Regions from separate parts of the Homo sapiens genome. Here region 2 is linked to region 1. The links come from fine-mapping of genetic effects on plasma protein levels. A gene starts in region 1. The other region holds a variant in brackets. All regions are shown on one strand. Distances are from middle to middle.

Region 1 (4,388 bases):
GGTTCGTGGATGGACGTGGGCTTGTCCCTCCACTCTCCCAGCTTGACCCGGCGCCGCTTACCCTCCCGGCAGGATTTGATGCCGCAGCTCTGGAAGCGCACAGCAGGGTCTGTTGTGTAGCACCAAGGACCTCCGGGGTCGCCATCAGGGTTACGGCAGAAGTTCTCTTCCAGGCCATTCCGGAGAGTGGGCGTGTACCTGAGGGCCCAGAGCATCACTATAGTGTGTGCTGGGGGAAGGCCCCAGGCCGGGACGGAGGGAAGGTGTTTGTCTCACTTGTGATCATTTGGGAACTTGTGGCTCCAAGCCTGGCAGGGCAGGCCACCCACGGTCGTGGCCATGGTGCCCCGGTACCCAACCCCATTGTTCATGATGCAGGTCCGTACGTAGTCTGGGAGCAAGAGACAGAAGATCAACTTGGGCTGAGGTCCCCTGTCTCCCACCCTGCCCCTCTCCACCCCCACTTGCCTTTCTTCTGGAAGAGGTCACAGCGCCCAGAACGCCGCAGCCTCGTGTGGGGCGAGTGTTGAGTCCATGGCAGCAGTTGGCAACCATGGCTGCTCACGTTGTAGTGGAAGGCCCTGGAGAGAAGAAGGCACAGGGTAACGCCACAGCCCAGGCTTCCCTGCCCCCAGTCTTATCTAGGCCCAGTGGCCACTCACCGGCAGTCCATTAAGGGCCCACAGCGACCAGCACACTCTTCAGCATCTGCCACATCCTCCTGCCAAGGCCCGGGCACCACCGCATGTAGCAGGTGCTGTAGCTCTGTGCCCCGGAGCACTTGGAAGTCATTCAATGGCGAGCGCTGCCCTGCAGAGTAGGCATGAGTGGGTGCAGGTCAGGTGGGCATACATGTCAGTAATGTGTATTGGCATGTCCACACTTTGTTCATTCAGGGGATCAAAGCTACAAGGCTTCTGGGATGGACCCTGTATGCACTTTCAAGGGCCAGTCTAGCCCCCTGCACAGATACTTGTGAAAAAAATTTCCCCTGGGAAGCAGGCCCAGACTTGGTAGTTATCACCGGTGCCTCTGTTTAGTGGCCCAGGCACCGGGCTCAGATCTAACACATACGCTCTGTGAGAGCAGTGGGTGATGAAGCTTGCCCCACCTCATCTCTCAAATGAGAATGCTAAGGCTCAGAGCCATCACATTACCCAGCCAGGGGCCCTGGCTAGGCATTCAGACTCCAAATCTGGGCTCTCACCTGCACAAAGGCATATGCTAGGTTAGAGGGGTAGATCAGGCTCAGGAGGGGTCACTGCCTGCTGTGTGCGTGCATCTGTGTGGTCCTGACACTGCTTCAGTGCTAGAGCAGACGTGCTAATAGAGGCCTAAGTGGGCAATGTCTATGTGTTCCTAGGGCTTCCCAGCTGTGCTCAAGAGGGCAAGGTCACTGCCCCATGCCCACTGAGCCTCTGGCTCCCCGACTTTTTTCTCATCCTAGAATAGGAGAATGGGGCCAACCCCCTCCTGAAGGCAGATGGGGATCAGGGTTGGGGGCACTTACCAGGGACCCCTAAGCATTGAGTCAGAAGCAGCAGGAGTGGGAGCCACCCCATCCTTCTGGCTGGAGGCTGCACTGTGACCCACCACAGCCCCATCCGGGAAGTTGTGAAACCTGTCCCTACGGGATTGGGTGGCTCTGGCTCCACACGTCAGCTCAGGGCCTGCTGGACCCTGACCTGAGACCTGGTGACAGGAGCCATGAGGGGCCAGGCCTCAGGTCCCATAGGTCAGTTGCAAGGGCCTAGTACAGCTTAGTGGACAGGTGTTAGGAAGGTTTGGTGGGGACACTTGAGGTGCCCTGGGGTTGGGGTGAAACCCCTCTGCAGCCTAGTCAGCCCAAGGGCATTGTGAAAGTGAGAGCTGCCAGAGGTCTGGGCTCCAGCCCCTGGGTGACATTAAACTTTTCTGAATTTCGGTTTTTCCCTGTAAATTGGGGAAAATTACTTGCCCCAGCTTCAACACTGCCTCCCCTCCACCCTTTTGCTGCTGCCTTATCAGGCCCCAGCTGTAGGCAGGTCAGCCCACACCCGGCGGCAGAGCCCAGAGAGGCTCGCTCATCTCAGCCGCCAGAAGTGTCATCCCAGGGAAGGTGAGCGAGGCTGTCCACTAGGACTAAATAGGGGTGGAGGTAACAGGTAGCAGGGACTCTGGCAGGAACGGCCTTTCAGACGTTTTAAGGACCGTCTGAGCGGGGCCTCTAAGTATGGGTAGGAGACAGGCGGCCTAGGGATTCCGGTTAGCATGTCGCGTTCTGCCGCAGCAGGGCTGGGAGCATCCCCAGAGCAGGCGGAGGTCGGAGGTGGTGAGGCCTTTCGGCGAAGCTGAGGCCTGGAACAACCCGGTGGGAAGCCATGGAGGGGGTCCCCTAGCGGAGGCTGGGCGCGGGCCAGTGCGCGTGCGCGGCTGGAGGCTCAGCGCGCAAGCGTGCGCGTGATTTGGCCCTGAACGGACGCCGTAGCCAAGAGGTTGGGCGGATGTTGTGAGCCGGGTCGCTGCGGCCGAGGCTCCGGGTGAGTGAGGGGCGGCAGGGCTCTGAGCCTGGCGGGTTCCGGCTATTCCCTTCGCGGTCCGGGCTAGTCCAGTGCGAGGGCACCTGCAGCGCAGGGATCTGGGTGCGAAACTCCGAGCGGAAGCTGGTCTGGCAGGTCCTGTGGAGCTTGGGGCCAGGCGGGGGCGACTTGGGGGAGCCATGCGCCGCCCTCGCCGTCCTTGGGCTCCCAGACGGAGTAGGTTCAGTTCTGAGTCCGGATACCCCGGCGGGGTTGGACGGGATAGCCGTGACAGGGAGTCCCCGGGCGGGGACAAGGTCCGCCTCTCACCTGGGTCCTCAGCAACTGACTCCCGGAGCCCACTCCGGGTGTCTGGAAGGTCTGCTCATCAAATGAATGACTGAGTTTAATCAGATCTTCAACTACTCTGGTAGTGAAGGGGCACCGATCATGGACGCCCACCGAGGGCCCGAGGTCGGGAAAATCACCTTCCCGAGGAGCAGGCGTGGTGCAGACCCACAAGGGTTTGTGGCGGGAGTAGAGGGTCTGTTTGGGGTGAGATAAGAGACTGAACTGCAGAGTAGGGAGTGCTGGCTAAGGCAGTGCTGCAGAGCGAAACTCTAGACCTGCGCTGTCTAATAGAACTTTATATGATGGTGGGAACGTTCTACCTTTGTGCTGTCCAACAGAGTAACCATTAGCCACATGTGGTCATTGAACTCTTGAAATGTGGCTAAGGCAACTGAGAAATCGAATTGTTAATTTTTAAAACTTTAAATTTAAGTAACCTCATGTGGATGACGGCTGCTGTGTTGGACAGCACCGCTACACATCAGTGAGGCCAGCACCAGGGACTCAGTGCAGGTTCTGGAGCAGCTGCAGCAGCAACATGATGTGAGGGATAGATGCACTAGGAGGACCAATGGAGTTTGCCATGAGGGCTGGGCAAGGGTGGTGCTTGGATGAGGTGGGAGGCCACATGTGTGAGTGGGAATGGTGAAACTATCAGGACCATGGATAAAAGAAGGGAGGAACCCAGGGCTGAGGAAAGAGGCTCCAGCCTTGTGGGGAGTAAGTGGGACTTATGGCTAGAGATGACCAGACCAGTGGTGGTCTGCACTTGGGGGAATGTGTAGGATTGTCGCTTCTGGTTGTGAGCTGGACTCAGTATGGCTTACAACTGAGATGGATACAGGGGCTCTGCCCCTAGGACACCTCACTTTGGACATTTTGGTCTGATTTCCACAGAGCTGAGACATTTTGTTATGGTTCGGCAAAAATATATCTAGTACCTGCTCTCTGCCCAGCCCTGTGCTGGGCACAGGGACACTGGAGAACAAGAAGTGGTCCCTGTTACATGGGCCTAGACCCTGGCTACCCTCCCTGTGTAGGAAGCTGGGAGCCCCTGCATTCCCCTGCCCTATGTGTTAGTGTGCATGCCCCTGGCCTCACCTGCTCCCAAGCCTTCCTGCCATGGCAGGACTGAGGTCAGGTGTGGGGGCCCCTGGCTGGCCCTGAGTAGACAGGCTCTGTGTCTGGCTCAGCCCCCAGGACCACTGGCTGCCCATGAGAGATGAAGGATGGCATCCAAGGGGGCCGGCATGTCTTTCTCCCGCAAGAGCTATAGGCTGACCTCAGATGCTGAGAAATCCAGGGTCACAGGTAAGAGCTGGCAGGGAAGGAAGGAGGCTCCTCTTGTTGGGAGGAGAAGGAAGGGACAAAGGCCTCAGGCCTTGCTGCACCTGTGGCTGGCCTAGGACCAGAAGTCTCTGGGGCCAGCAGGGGCCAGGAGCTGCACTGATCATGTGGCCCTTTTCTCCCTTCTGACTTGTGGCTCAGGCATTGTGCAGGAGAAGCTGCTGAATGACTACCTGAACCGCATCTTTTCCT
Region 2 (4,388 bases), 65 kb after region 1:
TTTTTTTTTTTAAAGACAGGGTTGGCCGGGTGCAGTGCCTCACGCCTGTAATCCCAGCACTTTGGGAAGCCAAAGCGGGTGGATCACAAGGTCAGGAGATTGAGACCATCCTGGCTAACACAGTGAAACCCCGTCTCTACTAAAAATACAAAAAAATTAGACGGGTGTGGTGGCGGGCGCCTGTAGTCCCAGCTACTCGGGAGGCTGAGGCAGGAGAATGGCGTGGAACCTGGGAGGCAGAGCTTGCAGTGAGCCGAGATCGCGCCACTGCACTCCAGCCTGGGCAACAGAGCAAGACTCCATCTCAAAAAAAAAAAACCCAAGGAACCATTTCACTTTTGCATGTGTGTGTGTGTGTGTGTGAGTTTCGCTCTTGTTGCTCAGGCTGGAGTGGCAATGGTGCAATCTCGGCTCACCTCAATCTCCACTTCCCAGGTTCAAGTGATTCTCCTACCGTAGAGACGGGGTTTCTCATGTTGGCCAGACTGGTCTTTAACTCCCGACCTCAGGTGATCTGCCCGCCTAGACCTCCCAAAGTGCTGGGGATTACAGGCGTGAGCCACTGCGCCTAGCCTTTTTTTTTTTTTTTGAGACAGAGTCTCACTTCGTCACCCAGGCTGGAGTGCAGTGGTGCGATCTTGGCTTACTGCAACCTCCACCTCCTGGGTTCAAGCAATTCCCATGCCTCAGCCTCCCAAGTAGGTGGGGACTACAAGCGCACCCCACCATGCCCAGCTAATTTTATTTTTGTATTTTTACTAGAGACGGGGTTTTGTCATGTTGGCCAGGCTGGTCTGAAACTTCTGACCTCAAGATGACCTGCCTGCCTCAGCCTCCCAAAGTGCTGGGATTACAGGCATGAGCCACTATGCCTGGCCGCCATTTCACTTTTTGCCATGAGACTGTCAAAAAATAAAAAGTCCACAAGCTCTGCATTCCTTCCCACCCCCATTTTCTCTCTGCCTTCACTTCCTACCCTTGTCTCCCCACTGCTTATTATCCCACTCCAGCCATACTGGCCTTCATGATGTTCCTCAAACACATCAGGCATATATATATTCCCTAGCTTCTTTGCACTAGTCATTCCCTCTGCCTAAACATTCTTCCCCCAGATAACCACATGGCCAACTCCCTCACCTCCTTCAAAAGTCTTTGATCAAAATGTCTCTTTCTCAATGAAAGGTCTATCCTACCCTCCCTAGTTTAAAATACACCACCACCTGCACCCTCCACCCCCTTTAATTGGCTCTTCTTTTTCTTTTCTTCATTAAGGCATTTATCCCCTTCTGGCATATTACATACTTTACTTACTGATAATGTCTACTGTTTATTATTTATGATGATGATGTCAGTTATATGAGTATCCTAAGTGCCCTGAGTAGTACCTGGCATATAGTAACTACACAATAAATCTGGCTGAATAAATATATGTATGTTTATGATATACATAACAGATGTATATAGTAGGGTAAATATATAACATATGAAAAAGTGTTTATAAAGGGACAAGTTCTTTTTGTTTTAAAATATTAGGGTTATAAACCAAAAAAGTTTACATTTCTAACCTAGACCTAGCAAAAACCAGAACAAACGGGTCATGTGGCTTTATGAAAAACAAAATATGTTGGCCACATGACAGAATTCGAAGTCAGCAAATAAAAAGAACATAAAATTGTGTTTTAACTCTTTTAAGATTTGATATATGAAGGAAAAATAGGTTTAAATGCACCCAAATGAGAATAGCCACAATAACAAGGACAAAATCAAAGCAAAATACAGAAGGAAAAAGACAGCCTATGAGGAGGAGAATTAGACTGTTTTTATCAATGATACAAAAGAGATTAAAAAGGGGGAAAAAAATCAGGCAAACACATAAATAATCTCAACTATAAAAGATTAATCAGGCCAGCTGTGGTAGTCATGCCTGTAATCCTAACACTTTGGGTGGCCAAGGCTGGAGGATCACTTGAGCCCAGGAGTTTGAGACCAGCATAGGCAACATGGCAAAACTTCACTTTTACCAAAAAAAAAAAAATTACAAAAATTAGCCAGGCGTGGTGGTGTACACCTATAGTCCCAGCTACTCAGGAGACTGAGGTGGGAGGATGGCTTGAGCCCAGGAGGTGGAGGTTGCAATCAGCTGAAATCATGCCACAGCACTCCAGCCTGGGTGACAGATTCAGATCTTGTCTCAGGGGAAAAAAAAAAAAGATGAATCAGGCCATGTATGGTGGCTCACACCTGTCATCCTAACACTTTGGAAGGCCAAGGTGGAAGGACTGCTTGAGGCCAGGAGTTCAAGACCAGTCTGGGCAACATAGCAAGATGCTGTCTCAATGACAATAATAATGATAGTAAGGAGAAGAACCAGACTAAAGAACTTGTTGAACCAAATTTAGGAGAAATCATATGA[G/GT]TTTTTTTTTGTGTGTGTTTATTTTAATGCAACAACACATCAAGCCTAGAAAGTGACAATGAATAAAAAACCTTGGCAGGGAAAAAGAGACTGCAATCAGATATAGTGGCGAACAAGGTCAGGACTACTTTAAGAGCTAGGAAGGCACTGTCTCTACAGCAATTGCAAGACAATACCTGGTCACCAGATTCTTTAGTTGGGCAGGCACAGACACACACTAAAAATGCAGATCAGCAGGTATATACTCTAAGAAGTTCAGTTAGAATTCCAAATTATTTGGCCAACATATTTTTACAACCTCAGATTAACCACTTGGGTTTGATATGCAATCTTTTTTTTTTTTTTGAGACAGGGTCTCACACTGTTGTCCAGACTAGATTGCAGTGGCACAACACAGTTCACTACATCACTACAGCCTCGACCTCCTGGGCTCAAGTGATCCTCCCATATCATCAGCCTTCCAAGTAGTTGAAAACACAGGTGTGTGCCACCAAGCCTGGCTTTTTTTTTTTTTTTTTTTTTGTAGAGACAGGGTTTCACCATGTTGCCCAGGCTGGTCTCGAACTCCCGAGCTCAAGATATCCACTTGTCTCGGCCTCCCAAAGTGCTGGGATTACAAGCATGAGCCACCATGCCCAGCCACATTTGCAATGTTTTTATAGAATAAAGTGAAGCACCTTTAGTGCCTTCACATTTCACAGGTATATTTGCAGATTTCCTCAACATTTCATTAAAAATTAGTTTATAAATCCAGTATTTCTATTACCTCTTCTAAAATTAAATATATCCACTTAAGCACTATAGGTACCATGACAAAGTATCATACCCTTTTTAAAATTCATAAAATTTGTGTAATTAAAGTTAAACTTGGTAAGTCAGGAATGCTAAGTAAAATTCTGGCAACAGTATTTTTGGTTTTGGCAAATGTGTCTTTAATTTGTTTTTTACTGTATGATACAATCCAAAGGAAAAATAATAAAACTAATTGAACTGAAAAGAGCTGAAGAGAAAATAAACTGATAAGTCACTCTAACAGAAAAGAACAACACATAAAACTTGGGCTATACAGCTCTGGATTTTATGAAAACTAATTTCTAATTAATTTCAGAAATAAAAAAGCATTGACATGGACTTTGACAGGAAAAGATACCAAAACACCTTCAAGAATCACAGACAAAAACACTATAGCAGAAAACCAACATGAAAACACGTTTGTCCTCTAAATCTTACAACCAAGGGAATCCAATGATTTCTTAAATTCAAGCCCATTCTTCCCTTTGTATATGAGACTGTAGACACTGATATAGATTAGGCATAGTTATGAGGGTGAGAGAGAACAATCCTCCTGTACCGTGAGGAGAAGGGAAACATAGGGAGTGTTCTTCATGTAAGTAGGGCTGTCAACCCTACTTGGAACCTACCCTTCCAAGCTACTAGGGACTGGCACATCCCTCAGAAACCAGAAATGTGTATAGATGTCTAGAGTAATCTGGGAGAAGAAAGAGAGGGAATCTATGTTGCCATTTGTCTCTAAAGAAGAGATGAAAGATTGTTTAGATTCCTGGGTCCTATCACAGGAGCTAGGAAACCATGGCATCCTGAGGCCACCTGGCTAAGAACAAACAGGGAACAAGGAAAAAAGGAAACTTAGCAGGGGACCTGAGATGTGCCAGCCCATCAACGAACAGCAAGAACAGAATTAATTTAGGTCAAGGAGAGAATCTAGAGTCCACTGAACCTCTTTCCTGTTTTTACTGGATTCCTAAAGATTAGAAATATGTGCTTCCCTAAATACATTTTTTAGTAAAGACCCTTTTGACATCAGCTGTGTCAAATGTACTAAGAAGTGGGGGAAAGGAGATATGTGAAGAATTTTCAGAACTGACGTTCAAAGTGATACAGGGGAAATCAAAATGAAATGCACAAAAAGAAAGGAGAAGGGCCGGGCGCAGTGGCTCATGCCTGTAATCCTAGC

Alleles and levels. Alleles are on the strand shown, and positions count from the first base shown. The strength of an association depends on the size of the effect and on how common the allele is.
With allele G in place of GT in region 2, the plasma level of the protein whose gene starts at base 2,387 in region 1 is higher (strong association).

The links. PIP is the chance, under the fine-mapping model, that this variant and not a neighbour inherited with it causes the effect. The UK Biobank Pharma Proteomics Project read protein levels with antibody pairs (Olink). The fine-mapping took linkage between variants from a reference panel, not from the people measured, so its PIPs are less certain.
Region 2: its variant is fine-mapped to the plasma level of the MST1 protein (UK Biobank, PIP 0.93).

What each region holds. Positions count from the first base shown.
Region 1 is chr3:49,687,088-49,691,475 of GRCh38, forward strand. MST1 (macrophage stimulating 1) reads right to left here and starts at 2,387. Exons shown (of 18, transcript NM_020998.4): 1 at 1,511-2,387; 2 at 663-810; 3 at 469-581; 4 at 277-391; 5 at 62-198. The coding sequence starts at 1,604. It overlaps RNF123 (ring finger protein 123), which reads left to right and starts at 2,470. Exons shown (of 39, transcript NM_022064.5): 1 at 2,470-2,519; 2 at 4,043-4,160; 3 at 4,338-4,388. The coding sequence starts at 4,079. RefSeq lists enhancers at 1-224, 1,741-2,300.
Region 2 is chr3:49,752,183-49,756,570 of GRCh38, forward strand. All of the region lies in intron 1 of IP6K1 (inositol hexakisphosphate kinase 1), which reads right to left. Among named protein-coding and RNA genes, the nearest start is that of GMPPB, 30 kb to the left of the region's middle. The variant G/GT (reference allele first, on the strand shown) is at 2,414.